Homo sapiens: one gene and its partner. The protein of the gene in region 2 interacts with the protein of the main gene of each other region in a biochemical or structural test. Each region holds a gene or a part of one and is shown on either strand. Other genes may lie near its edges.

Evidence for each region. The genes of interacting proteins can lie anywhere in the genome.
Region 1: the proteins of DNM1 (region 2) and MAP3K10 form a complex in vitro, tested with the Homo sapiens proteins (one study listed by BioGRID).

What each region holds. Positions count from the first base shown.
Region 1 is NC_000019.10:40,186,747-40,194,440, forward strand, and holds the start of MAP3K10 (mitogen-activated protein kinase kinase kinase 10), read left to right. Parts: upstream 1-4,679; 5' UTR 4,680-5,285; coding exon 5,286-5,967; intron 5,968-7,694. UniProt on the Homo sapiens protein: Activates the JUN N-terminal pathway.
Region 2 is NC_000009.12:128,206,360-128,213,378, forward strand, and holds part of DNM1 (dynamin-1), read left to right. Parts: intron 1-7,019. UniProt on the Homo sapiens protein: Catalyzes the hydrolysis of GTP and utilizes this energy to mediate vesicle scission and participates in many forms of endocytosis, such as clathrin-mediated endocytosis or synaptic vesicle endocytosis as well as rapid endocytosis (RE).

The DNA of each region.
Region 1 (7,694 bases), on a different chromosome or scaffold from region 2:
TGAGCCAAGATTGTGCCACTGCACTCCAGCCTGGGCGACAGAGCGAGACTCCATCTTAAAAAAAGATTAAAAAATAAAAAGTTGACTTGATATTAGTCAAGGGATACAAAATATCAGTTATGCAAGATGAATAAGTTCTAGAGATCTAATGTACAATGACACGACTATCGTTAATAAGATTTTATTGTATACTTGAAATTTGTTATAAGGGTAGGTCTTAAGTGTTCTCACCACAAAAAAAAAAAAAAGCTCCCCAACTCATTGAATAGGGCTAGCATTCCGCCAATGTCAAAACTAGGCAAGAATAACACCAGAAAATTCCATTTATGAAAACAAATGCAGGCCAGGCACAGTGGCTCATGCCTGTAATCCCAGCACCTTGGGAGGCCAAGGCAGGTGGATTCCTTGAGGCCAGGATTTGGAGACCACTCCGGCCAACATGGCAAAACCCCATGTCTACTAAAAATGTAACAATTAGCTGGGCACAGTGGCATGCGCCTATAGTCTCAGCTCTGGAGGCTGAGGTGGGAGAATCGCTTGAACCCAGGAGGTGGGTGAGCTGAGATATCACCACTGCACTATAGCCTGGATGACACAGCAAGGCTGTCTCAAAAAAAAAAAAAAAAGAAAAGAAAAGAAAAGAAATGCAAAACAACCCTAAATAAAGTATTATTAAATCAAATCCAGCAATGGTGAAAGCAAGAAAGAGGAGATAATCAACATTAATGGATTAAAGGCAGAAAAACCATCTGATTGCATAAATAAATGCATAAAAAGCATTTGATAAAATGTAACACCTGCATTTAAAAAAGAAAGAAAGAAAGAAAGAAAGAAAAATCTCTAGCAAGTTAGGAATAGAACCTGATAAAGGACTTCTACTAGAAATCTACTGAAAGCATCATATTTAATGATGAAACCTTAGGATCATTCCCTTAAATGTCTAGGACAAGACAAGAATTGTCCATTAATACCACTGCCATTCAACATTGTATTGGAACTCCTAGCCAAAGAGGAGAGGATTAAGAAAAAAAGCATAGACATCAGATTTTTTAAAGCTGTAATTTTTTTCTTTTTTCTGGACAACAGGATCATCTAGCTAGAAAATCGAAGAGAATTATCTGTCAAGCTATTCTAGAACAAGCAAGAGTGAGTTCAACAAGGCAGCCAAATCCAAGATAATTTTTTTTCTTTTTTTTTTTGAGATGGAGTCTCACTCTGTCACCAGGCTGGAGTGCAGTGGCGCAATCTCGGCTCACTGCAACCTCTGCCACCCGGTTCAAGCGATTCCCCTGCCTCAGCCTCCCGAGCAGCTGGGATTACAGGTGACTGCCACCATGCCCTGACTAAATTTGTATTTTTAGTAGAGACAGGGTTTCACCATGTTGGCCAGGCTGGTCTTGAACTCCTGACCTTGTGATCCACCCGCCTTGGCCTCCCAAAGTGCTGGGATTACAGGCGTGAGCCACCGCACCGGGCCCAGAGACAACCTGTTCTGCAGCCCATTTGCTTCTTCCAGAGTCTCCCTCTGTCGTCCGGGCTAGAGTACACTGGCTCGATCTCGGCTCACTGCAACCTCCGCCTCCCAGGTTCAAGCGATTCTCCTGCCTCAGCCTCCTGAGTAGCTGAGATTACAGGCACCTGCCACCACGCCTGGCTAATTTTTGTATTTTTAGTAGAGATGAGGTTTCACCATGTTGTCCAGGCTGGTCTCAAACTCCTGACCTCAGGTGATTTGCCTGCCTCAGCCTCCCAAAGTGCTGCGATTACAGGTGTGTGAGCCACCGCCCCCACCCTCTATTTGCTTCTTTGAGATGAATCACCCCATAAATGATTGGTAAACAGAGTAATGATGTCAGCATAACACAAGCATGTTGGTTAACATGCAATTTTCTCCAGGAAGTTAACATTTTGAAGCAATCAGGGCCAAGCTTTCTCACAGTTAAAGGGGAAGCCTTAGTACTAAAAGAAGATCTTCAGAGGAAAAAGCTGCAAATCTACAGAAGTGTCTTCCTTTGGATCCACGGTGGCTGGTTTAGTGACTTCAAAGACCACCATATTTGTCACAGTGTTATGCCTATGGCAAATCCATGAATGCAGATGAAGAAATTGCAAATATATTTCTCCCATATTAAAATAACAGATTAATGAAAAAGATCACACCTTGGATCACATTTCGAGTTTTGATGAAAATGATCCCCATCAATAGTTAATATCTCCAACCAGCATCCCCAAAGAGGAAGCATAAGCCCCACCTTCAAGGCTGCAAAGTGCTGCTGAAAGCAAATGCTCATGGAAATTTACCTATTCTAGTGTTTCTATTAGCATCATTATTGGTTTTGTAGCACTCTGAATATAAAGTTGTATACAAGAGGCCGGGCATGGTGCCTCACACCTGTAATCCCAGCACTTTGAGAGGCCAAGGCGGGCGGATCACGAGGTCAGGAGATCGAGACTATCCTGGCCAACATGGTGAAACCCTGTCTCTACTAAAAATACAAAAATTAGCTGGGCATGGTGGCGCCCACCTGTAATTCCAACTACTCGGAAGGCTGAAGCAGGAGAATCACTTGAACCAGGGAGTCGGAGGTTGTGGTATGCCAAGACCGTGCCACTGCACTCCAGCCTGGCAACAGAGTGAGACTCCATCTCAAAAAAAAAAAAAGTTGTATACAGGTTTTTATTTTTACTTTTTTTTTTTTGAGTCAGGGTCTCGCTCTGTCTCTCAGGCTGGAGTGCAGTCAGTGCCACAATCACAGCTCACAGTAGCCTCGACCTCCTGGGCTCAGGTAATACCCCTATACCTCAGTCTCCCGAGTAGCTGGGAACACAGGTGCACACCACCACACCCGCCTAATTTTTTATTTTTTTGTAGAGACGGAGTCTCCCTATGTTGCCCAGGCTAGTCTGAAACTCCTGGACTCCAGTAATTCTCCCTCCTCGGCCTCTGAAAGTGCTGGGATTACAGGCATGAGCCACCGTGCCCAGCTAGTTGCATATATTTTGAGCAATCTGTCTCTAACTCTATTTTTTCCATGAAGTCTTGTTAATTTTAGTGCACCGTTTTGAAGAACTGAAGGTTTTTTAAGAATGCATATAGCAGGTTATAGCAGAAACACTTATACTCAGAATGAAGCTGGGGCTCTCTCTTCCAACAAGCATTTTTGATATGCTCCGAGTGTCCCTGCTAGGTAGCCAGGAGACCAGGTAACCCACTTCCCTCTGACAATGGAACAATTCCCCAAGGACCCTGAGGGGCAGTTCTCTGGAGTTTGGGCACTAGAGTCCCTCTTATTTCCTCTTCTTCTCTCCTCCCTCTAGACCCCATACCACTCAGGAGAGGCCAAGTAAAAAGACCCAGAATTTTGCCTCTTACAAGCTTAGAGATCTTGAAGAAGTCACTGAACCTCTGCGGGACCTACTTTCCTCATTCTTTAAATAGAAAGGCAGTGGGTTTTTTGTTTGTTTGTTTTTTGTTGTTTTTTTTTTTGTTGTTGTTGTTTTTGTTAATCGTGGCGATGGTTATTTATTTATTTATTTATTTTGAGACGGAGTCTTGCCCTGTCGTCCAGGCTGGAGTGCTGTGGCGTGATCTTGGCTCACTGCAACCTCCACCTCCCAGGTTCAAGCGATTCTCCTGCCTCAGCCTCCCGAGTAGCTGGGATAGATTACAGGCGCACACCACCACGCCCGGCTAATTTTTTTTTTTTTTTTTAAATAGTAGAGACGGGGGTTTCACCATGCTGGCCAGGCTGGTCACGAACTCCTGGCCTCGTGATCCGCCCGCCTTGGCCTCCCATAGCGCTGAGATTACAGGCGTGAGCCACCGCGCCCGGCCTGGTTGTTAATTTTTAAAACTGCCTTTCATTTTTGCTTTGCCATTTATAGCTCTGTAGCCTTGCACAAATGACTTCACTTCTCTATGAGTCATCTGTAAAATGGGGCTCTTTGTGAAGACTTAACGATACCACGTGTACAAAGCACTGAATACAACATGCACATTAAGCTCCCCGAAATTGAAACTCCTATAAAATAGGAATCGGGGATTCTCAAGAGCAGGAGTTCTGACTTCAGCAGAGGAACCCAGAGCTGGTGGGGAAAGCAGACGTGGCTGTGACATCCCCAGGGACACTAAACACATCCTCCCAGCCCCATCTTCCCCGCAGAGTCCCGCCACCGGCCCGACCCCTAACTTGCTCCAACCACCCGCCGACGCCCGCAGCCCGCTGTTTGGGGGCCGCCCCCTGCAGCGCCAGGTCCCCGCGCGGACTACAGTTCCCAGCGTACATCTCGGTCGGGGGGTCCGAGGGGCCGTCCTGCCTCAGGGATAAGGTCCAGGCTGCGTTCGCGGCTCCGGGCAGTCACAGTCATGCACGCAGCTCCTATTTTTCGCGTTGCTAATCGCGTCCGTTGCAGTCCAACCCATCCTGGGCCGCGGCCCCCACAGGGTCTGTGAGGAGCGCTTCCCCCCGCCCCGGGCGCCCGCTACGCCGCGTCCGAAGGAGGGGCCGAGGCCGGGCTCATCTCCCCGGGAGGACTCCTTCGGCTTCGTGGGGTGTCATGTCCATTGCGGCCCGAGGCTGGCCGCGGGGCTCTGCTGGAGGGCGCTGAGAGCCGGGCCCCGAGGCCGCACGGCCGGAGACTACAACTCCCAGGAGGCACCGCGGCGGCGGCGCCCACACGTCACTCGGGCCCCGCCGGTGGCCCGGGGAAGCAGCACGGGCGGGGGGCAGGGGCTGGGGCCGACCGGGAGGCCGGTGCCAAGGATGGGGGCCGCCCGGCTGCCCCGCGCGTGAGGAGGCCGAGGGGCGCGCCACCCCGGCCCGGGGCGGCCGCCCCAGGGGCCCCGCCACCCCCGCCCGGCCCGGCAGTCGTGGCCCGGGATGCGGAGCCGGGGGCCGCCGGTGGAGCTGCGCGGGGTGAGCGGCGCGGGGAACGGGGACTGCCTGCCGCCCTCGCCCTCGTCCCCCACCGGCGGACCCCGGCGGGCATTCGAGAGCCGCGCGGCCAGGCCCTCTTAGCCCTCTGCCGTTTGGGGGGCACGGGTGAACCTGCCGCCCCACTCCCACCCCGCCCCGCCCCGCCCGTACAGCCAAATCGGAAGGGACGAGCCTGCCCTTTGAAAGGGTTTTTTTTCTTGCTCCTGCGGAGGGCGCCCCAGCCATGGCCCTCAGGAGCTCCCTAGACCCCGCAGGGACTGCCCTCCATCCCGGCCGCCGGGGCCCGCCCTCTGCATCCCGCGGGCAGCCTGTGTGAAGCGGCCTCCCGCAGCCCCCGGCCCCTCCCCCATGGAGGAGGAGGAGGGGGCGGTGGCCAAGGAGTGGGGCACGACCCCCGCGGGGCCCGTCTGGACCGCGGTGTTCGACTACGAGGCGGCGGGCGACGAGGAGCTGACCCTGCGGAGGGGCGATCGCGTCCAGGTGCTTTCCCAAGACTGTGCGGTGTCCGGCGACGAGGGCTGGTGGACCGGGCAGCTCCCCAGCGGCCGCGTGGGCGTCTTCCCCAGCAACTACGTGGCCCCCGGCGCCCCCGCTGCACCCGCGGGCCTCCAGCTGCCCCAGGAGATCCCCTTCCACGAGCTGCAGCTAGAGGAGATCATCGGTGTGGGGGGCTTTGGCAAGGTCTATCGGGCCCTGTGGCGTGGCGAGGAGGTGGCAGTCAAGGCCGCCCGGCTGGACCCTGAGAAGGACCCGGCAGTGACAGCGGAGCAGGTGTGCCAGGAAGCCCGGCTCTTTGGAGCCCTGCAGCACCCCAACATAATTGCCCTTAGGGGCGCCTGCCTCAACCCCCCACACCTCTGCCTAGTGATGGAGTATGCCCGGGGTGGTGCACTGAGCAGGGTGCTGGCAGGTCGCCGGGTGCCACCTCACGTGCTGGTCAACTGGGCTGTGCAGGTGGCCCGGGGCATGAACTACCTACACAATGATGCCCCTGTGCCCATCATCCACCGGGACCTCAAGTCCATCAACAGTAAGTGGTGTCCTCTCCCCAAAATTCCTTCCACAGAACCTCTCAAGGCCAGGCCTAGGTGGTGGGAAACAGGGTGAGGGACACCAGATGACACTGTGCCTGGAGTGAGAAGGGGCAGCAGTATGATACCTTCAGGGTGAAGGTGAGGTAGGCCTTGCCTGCCTTAAGGGAGAAAAAGGAGGCTCAGAAAGGTTGAAGGACTTACCTGCCTCCCAGGCTGCAGAGTCACAATCGCTCAGTAAACATGTATCCATGAACACCTGCGTTCCCTGCATGAACAGGACAGATGCAGTGCCTGCCTTCAAGGTGCTTGCCATCCAGCCATGCTGCCAGAGTCCACCAGGCAGAGACAAAAAGAGCCTACCCCGTCTGGAGTCAGTGTCTCTCAACCCCAGCACTATTGGCACTTGAGGCCAGATCATTGTTGTAGGGGCTGTCCTGTAAATTGTGAGTTGCTTAGCGGCATCTTTAGCCTCTTCCCACTAGATGTCATTAGCATTCCCTGCCCCCTCTCCCCAGCTATGACAACCAAAAGTGTCTCCAGGCATTGCAAATGTCCCCTGGGGGGCAGAATCACCCCCAGTTGAGAACCATTTCCTGGAGTCTTCATAGGCCGAGCTGGCCAAGGCAAACTGGAAAAGATGAGGGAGGAATTAAATTGATGTGGCTTATATAAAAGCTTCCAGGCTGCCTGATAGGTTCTCCAAAGTTGATTGGTTGGTTGAATAAATAATGGAGCCAGGTAGAAGGGAACATTCTGCAAGACTCATTTCTAGATGGAAGAGCTTCATGTGGTGTCAACAAGTATTAATTGAGCACCTATTAAGCAGGAGCCCAGCTGGGAGTAAGACAGCCATGGTTTCTGCCCTGACAGTACTCACAGGCTAGCAATTTCATTCATTCATTCCACAGATATTTCCAGAGTGCTGTGTGCCAGACCCTGTCCCAGGGATACAGCAAGAAAAAAAAAATCTTACATTCCTGGCTCTCCCATTCGTGCTGTGCCCCATCTCACTCCCTTTCATTTCTTCATTCATTTGTTCATTCTTCCATTTGGTATTTACCAGGCCAGATCATGTGCTAAGCAAAGGCATCAGCAGTGGAGAAGGCCAGCATGTCCCCGGCCCTCACGTCACTCACAGTTAAGCCCCAAAATGTGAAGGTGCCCCCTTTGCTCTCAACACCCACATCTCATCTATTCCTGATTTCTGTCACTTCTACATCTTGAAATTTATTTTAATCCATCCCACTATTTTTAGGAATATATTGCTATTCCCCACCCATAGCAATTGTAAGCCCCTAGAATAGAGGGACTGCATCTTCCTTGCCTCCCAAGCCTGACATTTGTATATCAACAGAGAGCTTGGCTGGGCGCGGTGGCTCACGCCTGTAATCCCAGCACTTTGGGAGGCCGACGTGGGTGCATCACCCGAGGTCAGGAGTTCGAGACCAGCCTGACCAATATGGTGAAACCCCTTCTCTACTAAAAATACAAAAATTAGCTGGGCATGGTGGCATGCATCTGTAATCCCAGCTACTCAGGCTGAGGCAGAAGAATCGCTTGAAACCAGGAGGTGGAGGTTGCAGTGAGCCGAGATTGCACCACTGCACTCCAGCCTGGGTGACAGAGCAAGATTCCATCGCAAAAAAAAAAAGCTAACATGTGACCACGATGTGCCAGAGCTGGTGCTGTGTCTGGGGAACTGATGCTTATGCCCCAGCACCTC
Region 2 (7,019 bases):
TTCCCTTTTACAGAAGGGAAAACTGAGGCCAATTCATTCAGTCATTTAGCAAACATTTGTGGAGGGTGCACGATGTCTCAGCACTGGGGATTCTATGGTGGAAAAGACCAAGACTCTGCACTGCAGAGGGAGAAACTCAGAAGACAACTGGAAAATGTGGTGAACGTCAGGGAGGGGAGTGGGGCTGCTCTCCCCAGGGAGGTCAGAGGTCTCCAGGAGGAGGTGGCATCTGAGATGAGAACCAAGGGATGAGAAGCTGTGTAACTTGCCAGGGGCGGGAGAGTTCCAGGCCAAGGGAAAGGTGCAAAGGCCCCGGGGTAGCAAAGAATTTGGTGCCTTTGAAGAACAGAAAGGAGACCCTGTAGCTGGTATTCAGCTAGCAAGGGGGAGACAGGACCTGAGAGATAGGCAGGGGCTAGATCTACAAAGCCCTTAGGCCATGAGGAGTGAGGAGTTTGGGTTTATTTTCTCTCTTGTGGGAAGCTTTTTAGTAGTGGAGTGATGAGCTAATTCTAGCAAGGGTGTGACTTGGGGAGCGGGTGAGGGAAAAGGCAGGAGACTGGTGGGGAGGCTGCTGCAGTGGGCAGGGGGTAGTGGGGGGCCTGGACAAGGGCTTCAGCTGCAACCAGAAGGAGAATGGTGGGTGGGTTTCAGGATATATTTTAGAGGAAGTCCTGCTGGAGGATGAATGTGGAGGGTGAGGAAAGAGGAATCAATGATGACTTCTGGGACTTTGACCTGAGCTCCTGGGTGGGTGTTGGTGCCATTAACAGAGTCGGGAAGAGTAAGGAGGAGCAGACTGGGGGGATGGGGGAAGACCAGGGTTTGGTTCTGAACATATTGAGCCTGAGATGCCTGTTAGACTTCTAAGTGGAAGATGTCAGCTGGCAGTTTGGTGATGCAAGTTGAGAGCTCAGGGGGAAGACGGGCTGGAAGTAAAAATTTGGAAGTCGTTGGTGTAGAGATGGGATTTAAACCCGAGAGTAGATGAGCTCATCCTGGGGGTAAGTGTAGATGGGGGAGTGTTTGTGGACCCAGCACACACCAGCCTTTCATGAACAGATGCCTGGTGCCCTAGGCCAAAGGGGCCTCCTCGCTGTCCCTCCAGCTCCTCTTTGTCACCCCCGCCCCGCTACACCCCCCACCCCAGTGCTCCTCTAGGGCCAAGAGTGGGTTGTCCTAGGGCAGGCCAAGTCTGGTGGGAATGTGGCAGAGGGGCCGAGAGCATGGTGTGGAGTCAGACCTGCCGAGTATGAAGCTCAACTCTGCCACTTACAAGCAGAGAAACCCTGGGCATGTTCCCCAAACCCTGCCCAGCTGCTATTTCCTCATCTGTAAAATGGGGATAATAATAGCACATCCCTTGTGAGATTATGGTGAGTGTTGAAACAATCCCCAGGAAGCACTCGGGGCAGGGCCTGGCATGGAGGACGCGCTGCTTCTATCCCTGCCTGGGCGTAGACAGGCAAGCCCTCTGGGATGGCGTGGGCTGGGAGGTGCACCAGGATGGGGGCACGGGTTGGGGATCTTCTCCATCCAGGGTAGGGTAGGGGTCCTGAGGAGCGACCCTCTGCCCAGAGCCGAAGGAGCAGCCTGGGAGGAAGGGTTTTAGGTTTCCCCGTAACTCTGCCTACCCCCCACCCCCAGGCTTTCTGTCTCCCCCAATGCCCTTGTCCCTTCCTCCCCATTCTTTTTTTTCTTTTTTTTTTCTTTTTTTGAGATGGAGTCTCACTCTGTCACCCAGACTTGGAATGCAATGGCGCGATCTCAGCTCACTGCAACCTCCACCTCCCAAGTTCAAGTGATTCTCCTGCCCTAGCCTCCCAAGTAGCTGGGATTACAGGCATGTACCACCACGCCCGGCTAATTTTTGTATTTTTAATAGAGATGGAGTTTCATCATGTTGTCCAGGCTGGTCTCAACTCCTGACCTCCAGTGATCCACCCACCTCAGCCTCCTAAAGTGCTGGGATTACAAGTGTGAGCCATAGCACTCAGCTCTCTGCTCTGCATTCTATCCCAGCATGGACGTGATGCTGGTCTCTGGACTCTGAGAGCCCTTCTCTTTGTCAAACCTAGCCTTTCCCAGGGGAGACAGCCCCCTCCCCACTATTAAGCTCTGTCTCTTCCTCTGAACACACCAGGATGCATCATAGTGGTCCCATTTCTCAGATTTGGAGATGGAGGCCAAAGTCTATTAGGGGATAAATGAGACATCCTAGGCAGAGTATCGATGACCTGGATGGGGCAGAGGGAACTAATATTTCCTTGGCACTTGCTGTGTGCCAGGCCCTGAGGATACAGTTGTGAGTCAGCCAGACCCATCCTGCTTGGGGAGGCTTGCGGCTGATCGGGGCAGACAGACATGAAATCCACAAAGAGCACGTTTGTCGTGTATTTTGAAGGAGGCTGCTCCTGCGTTGCAAGGAGCCTGACATTGAGGGGAGGGGGGCTTTCTGGGCCATCAGAAGGCCTCCTGAGGAGGTAGCATTTAAGATTGGACCTGAGCAAGACTAGGACGTGGTCAAGCCAAGGTGTGGACTTCCGCAGGTGCAGGGACTGTCCTGAGCAAAGAGTTAGGGGGAAAAGAGCCCAACGGGTTTGAGAACCCGGATGAAGGATGAAGGGCAGTGTGGCTGAGTGAGGAGCAGAGGCCAGAGGTGAGACTAGGAGGGTTGGGGAGGCGGGGCTTGAGGGGCCTGTTAGGGGCCCTTTGACACCCCCCCACCCACCTGGAGAGCTGCCACACTCTGCTCCAGCCTCTGCATGCTCAGAGCACGCAGCTGCCACGTGCTAAGCACACACTGCCTGTGGGCCACATGTGGAGCACACCCCTGGGGCTGGAAACATGGAAATGCACCCATCCACAGCCAGAGGACATCCTCTCCAAACCCACACCCCACCGTGGCCCAGAGGAGCTGGGAGTGAAAGGTGACCCTGGCAGACAGCATCTGATCTCGGCGCCAGGAGAATTGAGTTTCCCAGGCCCTGGCTGGGTCAGAGGGTCGGACCCAGGGAAGGGGGTGCAGGTGGGAGAGTGGAGAGGGTGGGCAGGGCAGGAGTGGAGGAAGTGGGTCATGGACACAGTGCTGTCAGGCGTGGAGAAACGGACGCCCACATGCCATATGTCTATGTATTCCAGTTATAAATCAAGCTGAGGAATTGCTAAATGCAATACATTCTGCCCTCCCACCATAACAAACACACCTTCATCACAACCTGACCAGCTGGGTTTGAATTCAGAATTTCAGACTCCTTGGAGTTCCGTGGTGGATGTGGAGGCGTGGGGACAGGTGTCCCCTCTCCGCAGGCTGCCCCGTCATTTCCCTCTTTATCCCTCCAGGGTTCACTTGTGAACACCCCAGCCCTCATATCCCAGCTCCAGAAAGGACCCACCTTGGGCCTGGGCTGGTCCCCACTTGGGCCTGGGCGGTGGGCTTGGAACTGCTTGAGAGGGAATTCTGGGGCATCTGAGCGTAGCCTACGAGGGGAGCACAGGCTTCAGCTGGGCACCTCCCCTGGCCCCTGGGGAACTCTTTGCCCCATGGGGAGGGTGAAGCCAGAGGAGGTCCAGAGAGGGACCCCTAAGTGTAAGTCTCAGACTAAGGGCTCCATTCCCCAGGCCTAAGGGCAGTACTGATGTCTTCTATCATTCCAAGTTTTTGTTTTGTTTTGTTTTGTCTGTTTTGTTTTGTTTTGTTTTGTAAGACAGGATCTCACTCTGTCACCCAGGCTGGAGTGCAGTGGGGCGATCTTGGCTCACTGCAGCCTTGACCTCCCGGGCTCAAGCCATCCATCCTCCCACCTCAGCCTTCCGAGAAGCTGGGATGACAGGCATGTGTCACCACACCCAGCTAAGTTTTTTATTTTATTTTTTGTGGAGATGGGGTCTCACCATGTTGCCCAGGGTGGCCTCAAACTCCTGGACTCAAGTGATCCTCCCACTTTGGCCTTCCAACCAGGTTTTTATTTTATTTGTATTTATTTGGCATTATTATTATTATTATTATTATTATTATTAGAAACAGGGTCTTGCTCGGTCACCCAGGTTGGAGTGCAGTGGCACAATCTCAGCTCACTGCAACCTCCGCCTCCCAGGTTCAAGCAATTCTCCTACCTCAGCCTCCCAAGTAGCTGAGACTAACAGGCACCCGCCATCATGCCTGGCTAATTTTTGTATTTTTAGTAGAGATGGGGTTTCACCATATTGGCCAGGCTGGTCTCGAATTCCTGACCTCAGGTGATCTGCCCGCCTTGGCCTTGCAAAGTGCTGGGAATACAGGTGTGAGCCACCAGGTTTTTAGATGGCAAAAATGACACAGAGAGCGTAGGGAACCTGCCTAATGTCACACAGCAATTGAATCAGAGGCAGGCCAGGAACAGGCATGGGTCTCCTGCCTCCAGTCCACACTTTTCCATGTTTCTGTCTACCCTATTCCCCACCCCAGTCCCACCCATGTGTGCACACACCTACACACCTCAGTGTCTCCTCCTCTCCTCTTCCTGGGCGACTCTCTGGCACTCTTACCCATTCCCTGGAATGAAATCTGGCTAAGAAACAAGAATCATTTGGAGAAGTCAGCCCTGGCAACTTAGAATTACTATAAGCAACAGAAAAAAAAAAAGTAATATTGAGCTTGGAAGGTGTTCAAAATATTCTCCTGAATGGCATCTTCCCAGTGCCCTGGCCAGAGGCCCCAAGATCAACTGCCTGCCGGCTCCCCCATCCTCCCCATCTGACTTGGTCCCCATGCCCTGTGGATTCTGCCCAGTTCACTCCTGTCTACCTCAGACTCCAGCCCCTTTGTCTTAGCAGCAGAGGTAGTTTCCTCCCTTGCCCCCTAATCCATTCCCCGCCCGACAGCATGAAACTCTCTCCAGCCTCCCAATCTATCTTCCTAGCTTGAAGCCCTCTTTGGATTCCCTGCCCTCAAAACGGAACCCCACACCTGAGTTGGGCCCCTGAGGGCTGATTACCCAGTCCTGCTTCCTTTCAGCCGCTCCCTCCTGGTCTACCTGAATATATTACAGTGCGTGGGAAAAATAGGGCCGTGCCCTCTCTCTCACTCTCCTGGGGTGCTATTGCATATGCTGTTCTCTCGCCTGGAAGCCTCTTTTTTTTTTTTTTTTTTTTTTTTTTCTGTACAGACAGGGTCTTGTTATGTTACCCAGGCTGGTCTCAAACTTCTGGCCTCAAGCCAGGTCTCAAACTCCTGGCCTCAAGCTGGGGCTTGAACTCCTGGCCCCAAGCGATCCTCCCACCTCAGCCTCCCAAAGTATTGGGATTACAGGATTCCAGGTGGCTGGCCCCTGGAAAGCTCTTCACCCTGCCGTTGTCTTCCTCTTTCACTGGGTCTTTCCTCCAAGTGTCACATCAGCCAACACCTCCTCTGGGATGCCTTCTCTGATGACCCTCTCCTGCCATGACCTGGCCCTCCCTGTGTGGGGTGGGGCTTTGTTTTCTCCCAGATGGGAAGCTGTAGAGGAAGAAAGAAGCCCGTTGCCTTGGGCTCAGAGCTCCTGGCAGAGGGCGGCTCCAACCATGGTTAATATTAACAACGTATCTAGTCATGACTGTGTTATTCTTTAATCACTCTGTCTCATGTGCCTCTCTTCTTAGGTCAGGGAAAGGAGGCCACTAGCCAGGGTGGGGAGAAAAATCTCAGCGGGTGAATGCACCCTCACCCCCAACCTGGGTCCCCATTTCAAAGGAATGCAATGCTGTAGCACATAAAGCACCCAGCACATGGCACGTGCTCAGGAACTGGGACCTGCCAATGGGCACCCCCTGTTAGGTCCTTCCACAGCCAGGATCTCAGGGCATTCCCTCAGCAGCCCTAGGAGGCAGCTGCTGGCCTGTGTCCTATTTCACTGGTGGGCAAACTGAGGTTCAGAACAAGGAAATAATTTAGTGGCTGAGTTGGGGTTCCTTCTCATCAAGATGCTGGTGATAAGAAATAAGGATCCATAGCTGGGCATGGTGGTGCACACATGTAGTCCCAGCTACTTCGGAGATTGAGGTGGGAGGACTGCTTGAGCTCAGGAATTTGAGGCTGCAATGAGCTATGATCGTACCACTGCACTCCAGCCTGGGCAACACGGCAAGACCCGGCTGGAAGGAAGGAAGGAAGGAATCAAGGAAGGAAGGAAGGAAAGAAGGAGGGAAACAGAAAGAGGATCCAGATGTAGCTGCATAGTGAATAACTTTGGAAATGTCTATGATATGTTAGGTGAATAGAGAAGCTATCAAAGGGCTGATAACCCAGTGTGCATGTGAGCGCCTGAGAGGCATGTGATTTCACCTTTCTGAGTCTCAGTTTCTTCCCTGTAACATGGAGAAACTGATCACTCTGATTTCACACAGCCATGCAAGAATCGATCCAAAGGCTGTAGATTTTCTTAAACAGCTTTACTGAGGTATAATTTACATGCCATACCATTCACCCATTTTAAAGGCACAATTCAATGATCTTTGGTATATTCACAGAGTGGTGCAACCATCATCACTATCTAATTTTAGGATATTTCCGTCACCCTAAAAAGAAATCTTGTGCTGATGTAGATTTTCAAGTCCCTGGCAGAGTCCCTGGCTGACAGTCAGCAATTCATCAGTGTTTAGCCATGATGATGATGATGAATGATAAAATGTTTACAGTGGCTCCCATCAGGTGTTGGGATGACGATTGGTTTTTATTTTTTAAATATTTCACGTATTTTCTGGATCTTTTTGTTTGTTTGTTTGAGATAGAGTCTCACTCTGTCATCCAGGCTGGAGTACAGCGGCAGGATCTCAGCTCACTGCAACCTCCACCTCCCGGGTTCAAGCGATTCTCCTGCCTCAGTCTCCCGAGTAGCTGGGACTACAGGCGCACGCCACCACACCCTGCTAATTTTTGTATCTTTAGTAGAGATGGGGTTTCACCATGTTGGCCAGGCTGGTCTCAAACTCCTGACCTCAGGCGATCCACCCACCTCGGCCTCCCAAAGTGTTGGGATTACAGGAGTGAGCCACCGCACCTT